2 separate regions of the Homo sapiens genome follow, and region 1 is linked to region 2. Evidence: fine-mapped expression QTL. Tissue or cell type: whole blood. Region 2 holds a variant in brackets; the other region holds the start of a gene. All regions are shown on one strand. Distances are from middle to middle.

Region 1 (8,100 bases), 140 kb before region 2:
TCTCAGCAGGTGCCTTTACCCTCTGGTCAGGAGAGAGGAAACGCCCCACAAAAACAGCAGGTAGGAATCCTTCGCGTTCAGAAGATGAGAAGAACCAAGGTGCCGTCGGGGCTAGTGCGGGCTGCGCCTTCTCTCCGAGGCCTGTCGCTCGTCTTCCTGCCACCAGGTGGCGCCAAAGGCGTTTCGTCTCTGCCCGCCAGGCCGCCGGGCTCCAGGACTGCGCTGCTGGAGTCTCTGCCGGAGCCCTTGGTGCTGGGGTCCTGGGGTCCCTTCTTAGCCCCCTTAGCACGTCGCATCTGGGCCCAGAGGAAAATCCACTTTTACACACACCCTCCACCCTGGCCCCAGGAAATGTCAAGGCCTTTGAAGTGAGGCTGGGAGCTACATAACCAACTGGGGAAAAAAATTAAAAGGTGGTTTTATGTTATTTGTAATGCGTTGGCAGAAGTTTTGTTTTTTCTCCCCCATTTCTTGAGGAAAGGCATTAAACTCGTCCTTGAACGGAAATCACAGAAGGAAACCATAAGGCATTTTAAACAAGAATAAAAGAAGGGCATCTGCTTAGGTGTCTGGAAGAGGGTGGGCGAGGCAAGAGAGAAAAACACCACGGTGTGAATATAGCCAAGTATTCCATTTATTAACAAAATAAGTCTTACCAAGGGAGAGCTCTGTTCGTCCCAAACAGGCCCCGCAGCCCCCGCGCTGCCGCATCAGACCAGAAGGAGGGAGGAGTGGGGAGAAGACCCCAGTCGCTGGGGGGTCCACTCTGGGGGCTCTGCCGGGCCAGGCCTAGGAGAGGGCGGGGGCTGCTGTGATCCGAGAGCTCCCTGACGCCCCAACCTTCCCCGAACGCAGCTAACGAGCTCGTGACATCCGCTGACATCGCCACCGGTCTGCTTTGGAGGGATCTAGCGAGAGTCACCTACCCCACCCCTACTGCCAGGGGAGGGGTCGTTGCCCCCACGAGGGAGAGAAAAACAAGGACTATAATGCACTTCGCAAAATGTAAGGGGCCGGCTTCACGCCAGCGGGGCCTTCTGGGACTTTGAATTCAACCAGGTGAGCGCTCCAGGTGCCCCGACAGGCGCACTGTAGCCACTGGGTGTTAGGGGCGGGAGTCTGGAAGGTGACGGTAGACGGCCACTTGGGCCCTTCTGGGGGCGAGCCTACTGGTGGGGTCAGGGCTCTCCGTGCTCAGAGCAAGGTAGAGGAGCAAGGCCCTACTTTTGGGGGGCAGGGTCCAGACCAAGGACCCTATGCGCGGAGGGTGGCGGGGGAGGAGTCCCGGAGCAGTGTACCAGGTCAATAGAGCTCCAGGGCCCCTGCCACCCAGGTGGCCCCCTCCACCCCCAAAATGAGTTACAAAAAAAACCTCCTCTCTGTTACTTGTACAACAAAGGAAAAAACAAAACAAAACAAAACAAAAAACAAAAACAGAACCGCAAATGGAAGGAAACAAGAGGGAATGAAGGGGGAAGAGGGAAAAAGAGAAGGCGGAAACGTAGTTTTAAGTTAAGACTCATGCAAGAAACTCCCCAGGAAGGGAAAACAAAACGTCTAGAAGAACCCAAAGACCCCAACTCTCCCTCAAACCAAACCAATCAAAACCAAAAAAAGAGGAAAAGGAATAAAAAATGTAAAACTTATATCTAAGAAAAAATAACAGAAAGGAACAGGGGCGGGGATCATGTCGTTATTTGTGGGATTAATATTATTATTTGGGAGAACACAGACTTTTTGCATACCATTGACTCATGTGGGCCGTTAATGCACTTATATTCCCAGCTTGTAAGCTAACATTATAGTAAATAAATACACAGTCCGGTGGGGAAGGGCTGGGTGGGGAATCCCGGCAGGGTCAAGCAGTAGTGGAGGTTGCAGCGGCGACGGCAGGTGGGGAGGGAGGAGGAGGGAGAGGGAGGAGGGTGAGGGGGCTGGGGTGGAGGAAGAGCTGTAGTTACTGGTATCCCAGCGCCGAGGCTGAAGCTAGTCTCTGTCCATACAGCGCGTATGGCGAATAGTAGGGTCCGGCTGTGGGGAGGGACGGCACGGCCAGGCCCCCCGCTGTGGATAAGTGGCTCTTGCCATAGGGGTGGTACCGGCTTAGGCCCAAAGTGTGTGGATTCCGCAAGGACAGCGACCCGGGGCTGCCGGGGGCGGCGGGCGGGGGGAGGTGCAGATGGCAGGAGGCGGCGGCGGCGGCGGCGGCGGCGGCGCTGCCCAGGCCCGAGGCCCCGGGGTAGGCGGCCAGAAGTTTCTCGGCTCCCGGCAGGGCCGTGTGGGTCCGTAGGTGGCTGAGCAGCTCCTCCGAGGTGGCGAAGCGCTTGTCGCACGGCCCACTGGCTGCCACCCAGTTGCAGCTGTGCGGCAGCGGTTCGTTCTGCAGCATGAAGCCGTAGGTGTAGAGCGGGTGGCCGGGGAGCGCGGCCTGGGCGGCGCTGGACGAGAGCGCGGCGGGCTGCAGCGGGTGCCCGGGGTACACCAGCGGGTAGCCCCCCGCCTTCAGGCTGGGCCCGGCAGGGTCGTGCGCGCTGCAGGTGGAGCAGCTGGAGCCGCCGAGGTGCGAGGCGCCGTGGTAACCTCCCAAGCAATAGGGGTCGCGGCATAATCCCTGCAGGAAGGAGGGCGGGGAGGCCCCGGTGAGCGGGCTGGAGCTGGGGGGCTTGCCCGGCGGCAGGCCCAGGCCCCCAGACAGCTGGCCTCCCACGAGGCCGGACTTGCTAGGATCCAGGCCAGGCACGAACTGAGACGGGTAGCCGGCGTAGGCGCCCACGATGGAGCCGTGGTAGCCAATGCTGGAGGGCGGCAGCGGGAACACCGAGTGGCCCGGCTTGTAGGGAGACACCGGCGCCACGTGGCCGGCCCCCACCAGCGCCGAGGGCGGCTCGGACTTGCGCCCGGAGGCCCCGGACTCGGCGCCACCGTGCGCCCCGGGCTCCCCACCGCCGCCGCGGCTCACGGCTGCCGGCTCCGGGCTGGGCTTGGGCTCCTGGTCTTTCTTGTCCAGCTCCCCGCCGCCAACCCCGCCGCCGTTCTTGCAGTCAGAGTGGTGCGGGGAGCCGCCGCGGGAGCCGCCGGGCGACGACGAGGACGAGGATGCGGAGACCGGCGCTCCATGCGGGGGAAAGGGCGGGCAGGCGGCGCTGGGGACCCTGAAGCCCGCCTTGTCTCCCGGGGACGAGGAGGACGAGGAGGAGGTGGAAGACACCGAGGAGGAGCCGCTGTCTTTGCGGGAGTCGCCGCCGCCGGAGCCCTTGGAGTAGGGCTTGAAGCTGGACTTGTCCTCGGCCGGTGAGTCCCCCAGCTGCTTCAGGGCCGCGGCTGCGGAGGCGGCGCCCGGGGCTGAGCGGCCGGGGTCCTTCTCCGCTCCCAGCCCGTTGGCCGCCGCCGCCACCGAGTTGAGTTTGGAGGAGGGCGGCGGGTCCGGCTTGCCGATCTGCGAGCAGGTCTGAGCCAGCAGCGCCAAGGGGCTCTTCTTGGCGTCCAGCTGTGGGAGACAGAAGCAGGGGGAGGGAGAAGGAGTGAGACTCAGAGGCCTGCGGGGCGAGCGGGGGCGCCCGGGGAGCTGGGCGGCGGCGCCACGGGGCGGGGCGGGCCTGGGGAGAGGGTCTGCGAGCGAGGGCCGGGCCGGGCGCGGCAGCTGGCGGAACTGCGCCCACACTGCCGCTGGGTCCCGGGGTGCGCCGCAGGCCCTGCGGAAGGAGTTCACCCAGGACCCCTGCGGGAGAAGGTGACGTCTCTGGAGTCGGGGCTGTGACTCGCCACTTCCCTCTAATGTCCCCCTCCTCCAGGCCCAGGAAAAAACTTATTCCTTTAGTTTGGGGGAACTTCGCTTGGGACGGGTTTCTGGCGATGGCGCCGCGGGGTAGGAGAGGGGAGCGCGGATTCTAAAGGAGGGGCTGCAGTTGGCGCTCTCTCCGTAGCCCCTCCCTCCCGGGGAGGGCACCCAGGGAAGAGGCAGGAAGAAAGATCCGGGATCGGGAGCGCCAGGGCGCCGTGCGCCCTCACCGGATGGGACAGAGGCGAAGTGGGACCCGGGCAGCCAGGGCTTCAAAGAAAACAGCCCGGCGTGGGGGGCGGGGAAGACCCAGCAGAGACCAACTCCTGGCTGGAAACTGGGGATCAGAGGAAAAGTAAAGGACCCAGAGGGGACTCCAGGAGCAAATCCAATCCGAGAGAAAACACGGAGCTCCGAAGGGCGAGCGTGGAAGGAGACCCTTCCACGGGGAAGCCTGGGGAAGCCCTGGTGGGCTCTGATCCCTCGGTTTTCTTCCCCTCCTCACTCAGCCCGCCAGCGTGACCAGACTTGGGTGTCGCACCGAGCCCCGGGGCGCTGGGAGCTGGGTCAGGGTCCCGGTCGCGGTGGGAGGAATGGGGCCGGCGCCCGGGGGCAGCGGCCGGGGACTGACCTCAATGGGGCTGACGGGAGTGGAGGACAGCGGCTGCAGGTACTCCGGGTGCAGGAGGTGACCGGTGTGAGCGCTCAGCATCTTCAGGACCCTGATCGGGAGCCGGTTCGCCTGGCGCAGGGGGTCCGCCGGTGGCAAGAGGGACACCGCTGCCGGCACCGCCGGCCTCTTCCCGCCGCCGCCGCTGCCGCTGCCGCTGCTTTCGGGTGTCCTTGGGTTAGATCCAGCGGGCGAATCGCTCATTTGGAGGAGGCAGCGCCGCTGGGGGGGCGGGGAGGGCGGGGGAGCACCGGGGAGGCGAGCTCCCGGGGCGGGTGGGCTCGCTCCGCAGCGTCGATCGCGGTGCAGCGGGAGCTGCGCCTCCTCGCCGCCTCCCCTCCTCCACCGACGCCTCCGCCGCCGCCGCCACCGCCGCTGGCCCCGGCTAGCAACACAAAAACCTTCGCCTTCCTCGAGCCGCACGTCAAATAGCCGCGATCGGCAGCCACACTTCAAAGGGATCGCCGCGCCCGCCCAATCGCAGCTCTCGCCGGGACCCCGGGGCGGGGAGAGCGGCGGGCTGAGGCCGGCTCCATCGGTGGGCGGGGAGAGCCTTAAAGGGGCCGCGCCGCGCGCCGCCGCTGCCTCGGTCTCGGCCGCTCCCGGGATTCCTCCCCTCCCCCCGACTGGGCCTTCCTCGCCCTGGGGTCCCCCGCCTGGGACGGGACTTCTCCGGGACCCTGAGCTCTGCGCCCCGTCCTCCTTTCCGGCCGCTCTCTCTCCTCTCTCCCTTCTCACCACTGGGTGGGTGGGGGGTGATGCTGGCGGGGGCTGTAACCCCGCCCGCCGTGTGTGTCCGAGGTGGGGTGGGGTGGGGTGGGGTGGGGTGGGAGGGATCGCACGGCGCGGGCTCTGGGACGCTGGAGTTCAAGCCTCTCCCAGAGGCCGCCTGGGGGCAGGCCTCGCCTCGGGAGCCCGGGTCCTTCTCCAGAGCTGCTCCGGCTCTCCTCGGCCCCGCTCTCCTTCCCCTACTTGGCCTCCCCTTGGTGTGTTCACTTGGAAGCGCCCGAGCCTCGGAGGCACCCACTGTTCTCGGGACGCGGCGTAGGCAGCTCCAACTACTTTGAGCCCGTCTTGTCTGAAGCCTGCAAGTTTGTCTCCCTTCTGGAGTGACATGGTCGGCGACCAAGCGCGGGACCCCAGGCTGTGCGCGCTGTGCCTGCGCCCTGCGTTAGAGGCTCGGTGTCTGGTGTGTTACAGGCTTCTTACCGTGTCCTGCTGAGGGGCGTGAAGTTCCTCACTGTACCGCGCCCAGCTGCTACGAGGAGAGACCGAGATCACGGGCGAGGCGGGTGTCCCTGGAGGGGGATCTCTCTCTAAGCGCTGCTCGGCAACACAACCCCTCCGCCCCCCCATCCTTCTCACTCCGGGGGAAAAAGCACTTGCTTTCCCCAGGCAAATTTCGGGATAAAAACTTTTAATTAAAAATAACAATACCCTTCCCGACTCCCTGCGCCTTTCTGATACAGTGTGCATTGCTAGCTTCGCCCTGGGCAGAGATTTTACGTAGTCATAGTCCTGACATCCAAGTTCCGGATCCGCCGCTTTTCCGGAGGCGAAGTTGGTCCTTTGGGTGCCGAACTCTGGGGAGCCCACTTCTCCGTGCGCTCGGCGGCCAGTGGAGGCGCGCTGGTGTCACTGCCTGGCTCCCAGCACCACTTTTCCAGTCCCGATCCATCACTCCGGTTGTCAGGGCTGTCACTCGGGGCGTATTGCTCTAGGATGGCAGGTTCCCGACTCTGCCGCGCTGACCGACGCCTTGAGATGACCTGAGAACCCAAGATGGGGAGAGGTGATTTCAAAGGAGCTCTTCAAACAGAAAGAAATAGCTATCACGAATCTGTATCTTGCCCAGTAGTAGAAGACAGCAGACCCCACTTCCAGGCAGTATCAGTCATACCCAAAACTAAGTGCACTCCCTGGATCCATACTGTATTTTGGGCAGCACTTATAGAATGCTTAGAAATTACACAAGCTGTAATTACATGTTCCCCAATTTTAATCTTGGTAAAATCATGTTACGCCGAATGGAAAGGGGTACCCTGACTGTGAGATGGATCCCACATTGCAGCAAGAGGGGTGCGGGAATGAAAAGGGAGGGAGTGATCTCATTTATTTCATCGTGGCAGGCTTCTCATGCCGACTTCTGTGCGGGCAGCCATTGCCATCACTGCAAACACCACCTGTAAAAGTCCACTGCAGGGCTGTGTCCACCCACAAGCCATTTTGCCTTCGGGAGACTGCTGTGTAGAGCGGGAAGGGCAGAAGGAAGCCAGGGTGCAGAGAGGCTGGCCTTTGCAGGAACGCAGAGGAGGAGGAGCTGGGCAGAGGGGAGACCTAGGAGGCTATGAAAGATGAAAGTCTCCCTGATTATTGTAACCAGCCCAGCTGTGAGAGGGAGCCAAGGGATCCTTCTAGGGCCTGAGCAGATGTGTGTTAGAAATGATTAATGGGAAATAAGTCAGGAGGAAAAGGGGAGGGGAGAGGGAAGAGGTATTTAGGAATTTGGAAAACAGAGCAGGAGGCAGCTGAAAGGAGAGAGGGGAGAAGAGAGAGGACAATAGAATATTCACTCTCTGTTTGGAGAGGAAAAGAGAAGGAAAAAGGTAGTGAATGAAGGAAAGGAAGGGAGAGAAGAGGAGGTAAGGACAGACTGGCAGGATGTGATGGGGGATTTGCCTAGGTAATACTATACTGTCCTGTTAAAAACACCTCACTCCCTGAGCTCCCAGTGGTAATTACTGACGGGCACACAGATTGGCCTGCTCCCACCTCCTGGGAAGTGGTAGGACACACCTCTGAAAGCATGCAAGGCGGGAGGGACACACTTTGAGCTGCTGGTCAGGGCAGCAGGGTTTCTTTGGCTGGATCCATCCAAACGTCTTAGGAGGGAAAATGAAAAACCATGCATAGCCAGGCCAGAGGCCTAATTAAAACACTGCTAGATGATTATTACAATTGGGATTCACCATTCACTTAGCTAAAATGCTAACCTATACAGAGCACTAAATGGGGCCCTCGGGGCCTGAAGGCAAGTGTAGTTTTCAGAGGAATGGCTTGTCACCTGGGAGGGAATGTGGCTCTGTATTCAGATGGGCTGTGTTTATGGAGGGCGATGTGGTTGGAAGGCCCGAGTAAGACATCCCTGTTCAGGACATATGACACAGGTTCTCCCTCTGCAAAAAAGTGGCAGATGCGTGGCTCAGGGGCCTTCCACTGTCCAGGTCCTCCTCAGATGGCCCTGGGAATGAGCGGCCACCATTAAAATGGGACAGGGGAGAGGGCTGCCTGAGAGTGCCCCCATGACACTGTGGTGAAGAATGACAGTTCGGTATGTCAGGCGCTTAATAAACATCAGGTGTTGCTATCATTCTCAGTTCAAGCTGAAGAGAGTCAGGCCCAGAACCAGGCTGCTGTGGGGACCCCGGGCAAGTGAACCTCCCTAAGCTTTGGTTTCCTCCAGGGTAAAATGGAAGCGTGGCCACTTCAGAGTTGGGAGACCAGAAGCAGACAATGCATGTCACCTGTTTCATGCTTGGCACAAAGAAAGTTGAAGGTAAATGATGGCTGTAACCGATTGCATCATTTGTGTCTGAGGAGCAATTGCTCAGGGGAGCAGCCACATCAGCACCAGATTTAGCCCTGGGAACCC
Region 2 (8,100 bases):
ATTCTTCCCCAGCTCCTGCTGGGATTGATGGGGTCAGAGTTCACAGGCATGGTTGCCTCATTCTCCAAGTGGGCTGGAAATCTCGCAGACAGATGGGTTAGGGTCTCCTGTGACCGGACCTTCCCCAGAGGTGAAGGGCTCACAGGAAATGCTATTTCTGCTCTCCTGAATCAGGCCCAGTGACTTGGAGGCCTCAGGAGGGGCCGATGGAAGTTGTTTTTTCCCAAATGCTCACATTTCTCCTGGGTATGTATCTTGGGTGTGTTTGTGTTTGGCCCCATTAAGATCAACCACTGGACCATTTGGGAGAGAATCTCTACCTCCTGCCCCTGCCTGACTTGTACTTTTTACTCTCCAAATACTAGATTGCTTGAGGCTTCCTGTTCCCCTGTGCTCTGTCCTGGTTCCTGCCTATTTCCTCTGCAGTAGCCCCGCCCATCTTCTCAGCTTAGATAACTCCTGCTCACCTTTCTGCATTGCCTCCTCCAGGAAGCCTTCTTGGAATGGCTCTGTTCTCCTGTGGCATTCAACAGTTCATTCAGTAAACTAGTATTATTTACTATGTACCTGGCCCTGTTCTATTTGGAATGTATCCGTGCATAAAACACACCAAAATCCTTCCCTCAGGGCACTTACATCCTAGAGTGTAATAACAGCTTTATATGTATTAACAAACAATCTGTAGAACATCCCTACAAAGGAGGCCAATTATTTTATAATTATTTTTTGAGACAAGGTCTCACTCTGTCACCCAGGCTGGAGTGCAGAGGTACAGTCATGGCTCACTGCAGCCTCGACCTCCTGGGCTCAAGGGATCCTCCCACCTCAGCCTCCCAGGTAGCTGGGACTACAGCTGTGCCCCACCACATACAGCTAACAGGTCAGTTATTATCCACATTTCCCATAGGAGGTTACACAGCTGATAAGGGTCATGTTAAATTAACTTAAATCAAATTAAATTAGTCAATGGAATTATTTAATTTAATTTAATGTAATCCTGACAACAGCCTGATGAGATAGATGTTATTTTCCTCATTTTACAGATGAGGAACCCAAGACTGAGAGGGGTTAGGTAACTGATCCCCGGTCACCTAGTCAAGAAGGAGCAGCACCATGGGGATGACTCTAAGCTGGTACAGGCCCCTATGGCCCCCATAAGAATGTCACTCTGTGTTGCCAAAGCATTTTCTGTCTCTAAAGATCTGCTTATCTTCTCCATTATCCTGGGAGTGCCTCCAAGGCAGTGATCTTGATTTATTTATCTGTATCCTTTGAACTCCCATTGTGTTGGGCGCTTAACTGGCGTCTGACAAATACTTGTCTGTGGATTGATGGACAGCTGAATTTCGGCAAAGATGAGAATAAAGCAGCTAATATTTATTGCACGTACTCTGTGCTGGGCTGTGCTTTGGTCCTGGCTAGACATGACCTCTTTTAGTCCTTACAATAGATGAATTAGCCGTCGAGAGGCTGGCTGGTAGTGTGGGCTAAAGATGGGGTTTGAATCACAGGTTTCTCACTCCAAAAATCCATATCCTATGGATGTTTCTGTGCCACAGGAAGCCAATCAATGGAAAGGTGGCCACTCTGGAAGGCATCCGACCCTAAGTCTCTTGGGCTTTGCTGTTTTGGTCCCCATCCGGCCAGACAGGAGTGGAGGGGGTAGGCCCTTCATGCTGGGAGTGGCATTTACAATAGAGTGAAAGCCATCTGGGGAAGTTGGGGGTTGGGTCTCAAGATTATCCCCACCCGTTCAGATGTGGGAAGGAGTTAAAGGGCGGCGATTGGGCACATTAAATTTTTACTGATTGTTGCTGAATCGGTAACAGTCTGTTCCAGGGAAACAGCTGGATTCAGACTGAACTGGCAGACACTGCACGTGTTCTACAGAGAAGAAAGAGGATGATGGTAAAGCAGACTGCAGTCTTCAGGCCTGGAGCAGAGAAGGGAGAGTTCCTGCTCTAGGTATGTTTAGTGCCTTTGTTCTGGCATCTGTTTTTTTCCCCGCCTTTTTCAATTAGGAAGGAAGAACAAAGTAGAGTCTTCTGACTCATCTACCCATGGGGCTTAGGAGACTGAGGGCCACCGTGTGTGTGTTGCGGGAGGCGGGGGAATGCGTGACAGGGACCTATGGTTGTAAGGCACAGCAGAGCACCGGAGCCCATGTCCTGGGCCTCCCAGGCTGTCACCCTGTCATTGGGGCACATTGACTTCTGGTGCCCTCCAGCCTCCCGCAACAGACAGCCACGTCAAGTCCCCCTACGCCCCTTTGGTTAATCCCCTATTTTGCTTGACTAAGAGTCAAAAGGCAAGAGGACGGCACCCAAATGAACTAAGCTCACTTAAATCACTGGCAGGGTAATTTGATAGATGAGTTGGCCAGCACCCACTTCGGGAATTAAGCAAAGCCTGCGCCATGGAGACAGTGGGAAATAACCTTGAGTGACTGTGGTGAAAAGGCGGCCTCATTTCACCCGGGGGGACAGCCCCAGCCCCAGCTCCGCAACTCAGATTGGAAGACAGTGTGCAGTGTCTGCTGGGATGACGGGTGACATTTCTCTCCCAGTGGTCTCTCCCTCCAAAGCAGGACAAAGGTCTCAGCAGTGGGGCCTTGGGCAGAACCAACAGCCCCCTCGGTTGCTGCTTAGACTCACCTGGGGTTAGGGTAGCTAACTGCTGAGGAGGGGGCAACTGGAACCCTGCCTCAGGGTTCCCTCCCACCAGCCCACCCAGGTAAGGGCTCCAGCAGATGCTCTTGTTTGTTGAGCTCACTCATCTGTTGATGGAACACAGAGGAAACAAGGGTCTTTCAACAGACCGGAGTCATGTTATAAAATGGGTGTTTTATGGGCCACATGCAGAAACTGACCACTTGCAGAAGGCCACCTTACTCTGCAGAGGGGCCAGTTGTGAGGGAGAAACTTCTAGGTCCTTTCATCGAGATGAGGATTGTTAGCTCTGACTTCAGATAAGCAGAATAAACAAGCCTCAGCCCAAGTGGGAACTGGTTCTGCCCCCTTTCTTTGCTTTTCTAAGCCATCAAAGCCAAGTTCCTAAAGCCGGACTGTCTCACGGTGCTTTCTGATGGTTTCATTGTTTTGTTTATTGTGCTTATGGCAAGTGCTAACAGACCGCTTTCAAAGTGTGTTGATATTTCGGTTGTTTTTGAATGGCCCTTCTGTTTTTCTGCATCTGGACAGCATTAGAGTCTAGCCCCAGGGAAGAACTGGGTTCCTATAAAAGTGTACCAGGTCCTCTTCTGCAGCAAACGCTGGCCATGACAAGATCAGACACCCCATTTGGGCAGGAACACACACCAAAAATTAGAGCGGAATCATGAGGCCACCTTCAGCAGCCAGGGAAGACAGGCCTGGGCTGGGAAGGGCCCACTGAGTGTTGCCAAGTGAACTGTGGGTGTTCTCTTTCGGTCCATGGACATGCTGTGGTCTTCCCGCAAGAAGAACTCTACCAAGCCGAGGGTAGGGTGATGCCATGAGATGTTCGTTGTCCATAGCTTCATAGATTACCCCCTCCCCCAACCTCTCTGTCTTTTTTTTTTCTTTTTTTTTTTTTTCTAGAGGTCTCACTCTGTCGCCCAGCAACGTAGCTCACTGTAGCCTCAGACTGCTGGGCTCAAACAGTCCTCCTGCTTCAGCCTCCTGAGTAGCTGGGGCTACAGGCACGTGCCACCACGCCCAGTTAATTTATTTATTTATTCTCTTTAGTTTTAATAGAGATGAGGTCTCACTCTGTTGCCCAGGCTGGTCTTGAACTCCTGGGCTCAAGTGATCCTCCCACCTGGGCCTCTCAAAGTGCTGGGATTATAGGCGTGAGCCATTGTGCCCAGCCTCTCTCTCTGTCTTCTAAATTTCTGGTTACCTGGTCAACCACTAGCATAGTTTTCAAATAAGAGGTTCTTGAGGATTGGACAAGGAGCAAGAGCTGGAAAAGGGAGAATGGCCTAGTGTCCAGGAGAAGACTGGAAGAGGCAGCGCAGCCCCAGGGCCCCCACACTGCAGCTCCTGACCTGCTCCAGGCAGAAGCTCTTTTGGGGGATCTTTTGCAACATTGCCCAAAGGGCTGGACCTGGGAAAGGGCATGGTGTGATTGTCCCCCTAAGACACTGTCTTTGGTTTTCAAGGGCTTCCCTTTCTATGTCTGCTCCAGCTCCACCCAACCCTCACCAGCCCCACGGTGTGCTGCATCAGAACATTTTGGGCTAATGCAAAACCAGGCTCCAACCAGCTCCCTCTGGTGGGAGAGAATCTGGGGGTATGATCTCACTTAACTTTGTAAGATTAGCACAAACTCGAATCTATTTCCTTATCTTTCCTTCTTTCTTTTTTCTTTTTTTTTTTTTTAACCCAGGCTAAAGTGCAGTGGTGCAATCACAGCTTATTGCAGCCTCAAACTCCTGGGCTCAAATGATCCTCTTG[C/T]GTCAACTTCCTGAGTAGCTGGGACTGCAGGCACGTGTCACCATGCCTGGCTAATTTTTAAATTTTTTTGTAGAGATAGGGTCTTGCTATGTTGTCAGGGCTGGTCTAATCCATTTCTTCAAGGCCTTCCCTGTTTTCCCCGTTCCAGATTGCCTGAGGTTTTCTTTAGCCCACGAACCTGATCAGCTTGTAAACAGTCCTCTCTGGTTTGGTATCAGGAGTTGCAGGGCCCTCTTCTGCCTGATGTCCAGACAGCTCTGTGGCTCGGTATGACAAGATCCTGACTGAGCAGTTCCCATGAGCTCCTGCTAAGTCACATAGGATGGAGAATGAAAGGCGGCAAGCGAGCTTTGGTGCTTCCATGCTGCAGTTCAAGGAAGTCCAGGGAGCTGGGGGAAGAAAAAAGCTAGCTCTGTCAGTTGGTTCTAAAAAGAACGATGGAGGCTCTTAGACCTGCAATCAGCGTGTTCATGTCTCTAAACACATTGGGGCAGGGGAAGGGCTGCAAGGGTTGGCTGTGATTGGTGATGACTGGTCTCTACTCAATAGGTCTCAAAGTTCTTGTCTTCTTTATAGCTACACACCCTAGCCTTTTTTCCTAGGTGCGTATTATCTTGTTAAGGATTCTCCTTTAAGCTGTCTGTCCTTCTTGAGGTTTTAGCATCCTTAGAATTGGATATATCCTTGTGTTTACTTTCGCCCATTTGAGACACTGGATAAAGCCCTAAACAGCGCCATTTTGTTTTTGTGTTTTTGTGTTTTTGTTCCATTGGCTCTTGGTTCCAGCAAGGAGACAATGTGAGACGCTTGGTCCAGGGCCAGGCACATCCTGACAGGCTAGGCTGATTGACCTCTGAGAAGCTGAGCACACCCTCCACTGAGGCAGGAATATTCTATGAGAAGGACTTTCCTGTTTTCCGATTCCTTGAATAGGCAAGTTAGAGAATGGTGGTCTTCTGTCTCCCACGCCGTGTGTGTGTGTGTGTGTGTGTGTGTGAACACTTGTCATTTTGAAAAATTGTAAACTTTATTTAGCAGTTTCTTTCTCACTGGGGTTTCTCCTTGTGTGAAACTTTAATTTTATAGCTTTGGCTGTTAATTCATCATGGGCACCACCATCAATAAATATTTATTGAGCTTTCACTGGGCACGGCATGTTGAAGTAAGAACTATGTATTTGACTCAAGAGGAGTTCATAGTGGATGGGGTTAGATTTTGGGAGGGGGCAGAAAAAACCTCTTTGAGGTCTCTTGCAACCCTGGGATTTTATGGCTTTGTAACCAAGGTGATAGGGTCAGTTTGACACATATCAGGCAGTCAGCTCGACATACATCAGGCAATCAGCTCGAACAAGAGAATGGGGCTTTGAGAGGTACATGGGCCATCACAAAGATAGTCGCCTTTAGAAAACCCACCCAGAACTGGCAGTGAGACTGCCATCAGCAGTGCTAGCAGATGTCCACTCTGGGACCCAGGGCTGCAAAGGGATAAAGTGGATCTTCTTGGTTTTCCTTATAGTGCCCTGTGGAAGTAAGTACTTGCTGATTGAGTGATGGTTTGCCCTTTGATTCTGGAATTTAAAAGGAACATAGGGCTGGGTGTGATGGCTCGCACCTGTAATCCCAGAGCTTTGGGAGACTCAGGCAGGAGGATCACTTGAGGCCAGGATTTTGAGACCAGCCTGGGCAACATAGCAAGACCACAGCTCTACAAAAATGAAAAAAATTAACAGGCATGGTGGCATGTGCTTGTAGTCCCAGCTACTTGGAAGGCTGAGACAGGAGGATCGCTTGAGCCCAGGAGCTGGAGACTGCAGCGAGCTATGATTGTGCCAACGCACTCCAGCCTGGGCGACAGAGAGACCCTATCACTAAGTGAACTACAATAAAGTAGAATAAAATAAAATAAGGTAAAAGAAGTCTAGAGCTTGGGAAAGTTTGGAGCCTGTTAATGCTTTGGTAGGAGAGGACGGAGTGTCTTTTTTATAGACTTCTCAGTGGCAGTCTAGTGGGTGCCCCTGAGCACTATGGGCTAGGAGAGGGCTATAGGAGGGGAGCTGTGTGAGTCTCTTGGATCCCTAATCAGAGCAGAAGCAGCTAGCCTGCCGCAGCAGTGACGCGGGCCTCCTAGAGGGTTTTCTTCAACATTATGAAGATGAACAGGGCTCTGAGAATTCCCTTTGGACCTGAGCTCCATGCTAATTGCCTCCATATTTATGGGATGATGGGAGGACCACAGTGGCAGCCTCTGAAGTAGAGTCTGGGGATGATTCAGCAAAGCGGCCCTGGCTCTGGTGATTGTTGGGCACCGGTAGATCTGAGCCTCCAGGGGCCCAGAGGCTCAGCTCCCTGTTGCCAGGCAGGCACGGTGCTATTATTATTGTTATTATTATTATTATTCTCTTTTTCTAAAAGAGAAGCTGAAACAGAAATCCAGAAGGGTGAAGTGCCCAGGTAATACTATGGGAACCACAGAGTCAAGGTAAACAGGAGCAGGAGAGTCTGTATCTCCTGCCTTCCAGCTCATGGTTCCTCCACTGCCAAGGGGAAGGGGCAGGGAATTGAGTAGTGCTGATCCTGTCTTTTTCATAAAAGATGATGTTCGGTGTCTCACAAGCAGCTGCTTTTCCCCTGAGGTTAAACTGGTGGTATTAGGGCTGAAGGAGGCTGATAGAGAAGCAAGGAACTAGGGAATACTGCCTGGTTCCATATCTATCCCTAGTTGGACTGTGGGCTAGCTACCTCGCCTTGCCGAGCCTCGGTTTCCCTATCTGTAAAGTGAGGATAACAGGGTTAACTATTTCATGGGAATGTTATGGGCAGTGGATGAAATGAAATATACAAGGAGATTCAGATCATGCTTGGAACAGAAGTTAGGGACTAATAAATAGGTGCTGAGATAGGGAGGCAGTCTGGTGGTGAAGCGTGCACACTCAGAGCCTGGCTGCCTGAGCCCAGAGAGTTCAAGTGACTTGCCAGGTCACGCAGCTAGTGAGGGGCGGAGTTGTGGTGAGTTCCTAGTGCAGCAGTCTTTCCAGATCTTTCCATGCTGGATCCTTTGATCAGGGGACTTGGGGTGGGGCTCTCCAGGCACCAGTGCTAGTCATAGGAGGGGCCCATCTTGGGGACTGGGGTGTCCTCTTAGGATAACTGTCAGTTGGTAAGGGGCACAGCATTGGAGAGATGGCAGGGGCTCCTGGGGAGATGGCTCTGGGGTGAGCCTGAGCCTCGACTTTGTCTACCACAATGCAGTGGCTGAAGTCTCCTCCGGGCGGAGCGGAAGCCACATGGGCTGGGCAGGGTGGGAACACCCTCTGTGCTCTGGGATCTCGGCATGGCTTTCCATCAAGCCTCTGTTGGTGCCTCGTTCCCCCATAAAGCCATTATGCACTGGGAGAATTAATCATGCCGTTAGGTAAGCATTATGGCACTTTTATGGCAGCTTTGAAGCTAATCTGTCACTAATGCCTGCTGGATTATCATGATTTCTTGCAGTTGTGATTCATTAACTCGAGGCCTAATGGTAATTCTATTAAACATCTTCCATCACTGTTTGCCCCAACATGTCCCCACTCTCTGTTCTATTGTGCTGTTGCCGTGGCGTGACTGACAACCTGTGTGGTCTCCAAAATTGGAGCCCCAGCGAGATGAACAGATTCCCCAGC

The links. PIP is the estimated chance that this variant, and not a neighbour inherited with it, causes the effect.
Region 1: ZNF703 starts here. The variant in region 2 is fine-mapped to the expression of ZNF703 in whole blood (TOPMed, PIP above 0.99).

The regions. Positions count from the first base shown.
Region 1 is chr8:37,692,532-37,700,631 of GRCh38, reverse strand. It overlaps ZNF703 (zinc finger protein 703), which reads right to left and starts at 4,850. Exons shown (of 2, transcript NM_025069.3): 1 at 4,410-4,850; 2 at 613-3,487. The coding sequence starts at 4,652. The coding sequence ends at 1,958. LOC124901932 (a long non-coding RNA gene) reads right to left here and starts at 6,702. Exons shown (of 2, transcript XR_007060887.1): 1 at 6,632-6,702; 2 at 5,849-6,217. It overlaps LOC124901933 (a long non-coding RNA gene), which reads left to right and starts at 4,951. Exons shown (of 2, transcript XR_007060888.1): 1 at 4,951-5,192; 2 at 5,649-5,887. RefSeq lists enhancers at 974-1,485, 3,919-4,461, 4,462-5,005 and silencers at 4,740-4,839, 4,890-5,239, 6,027-6,211.
Region 2 is chr8:37,547,887-37,555,986 of GRCh38, reverse strand. The region is part of intron 1 of LINC01605 (long intergenic non-protein coding RNA 1605); the gene reads left to right. Among named protein-coding and RNA genes, the nearest start is that of LINC01605, 48 kb to the left of the region's middle. RefSeq lists enhancers at 1-185, 7,169-7,668, 7,669-8,100. The variant C/T (reference allele first, on the strand shown) is at 4,437.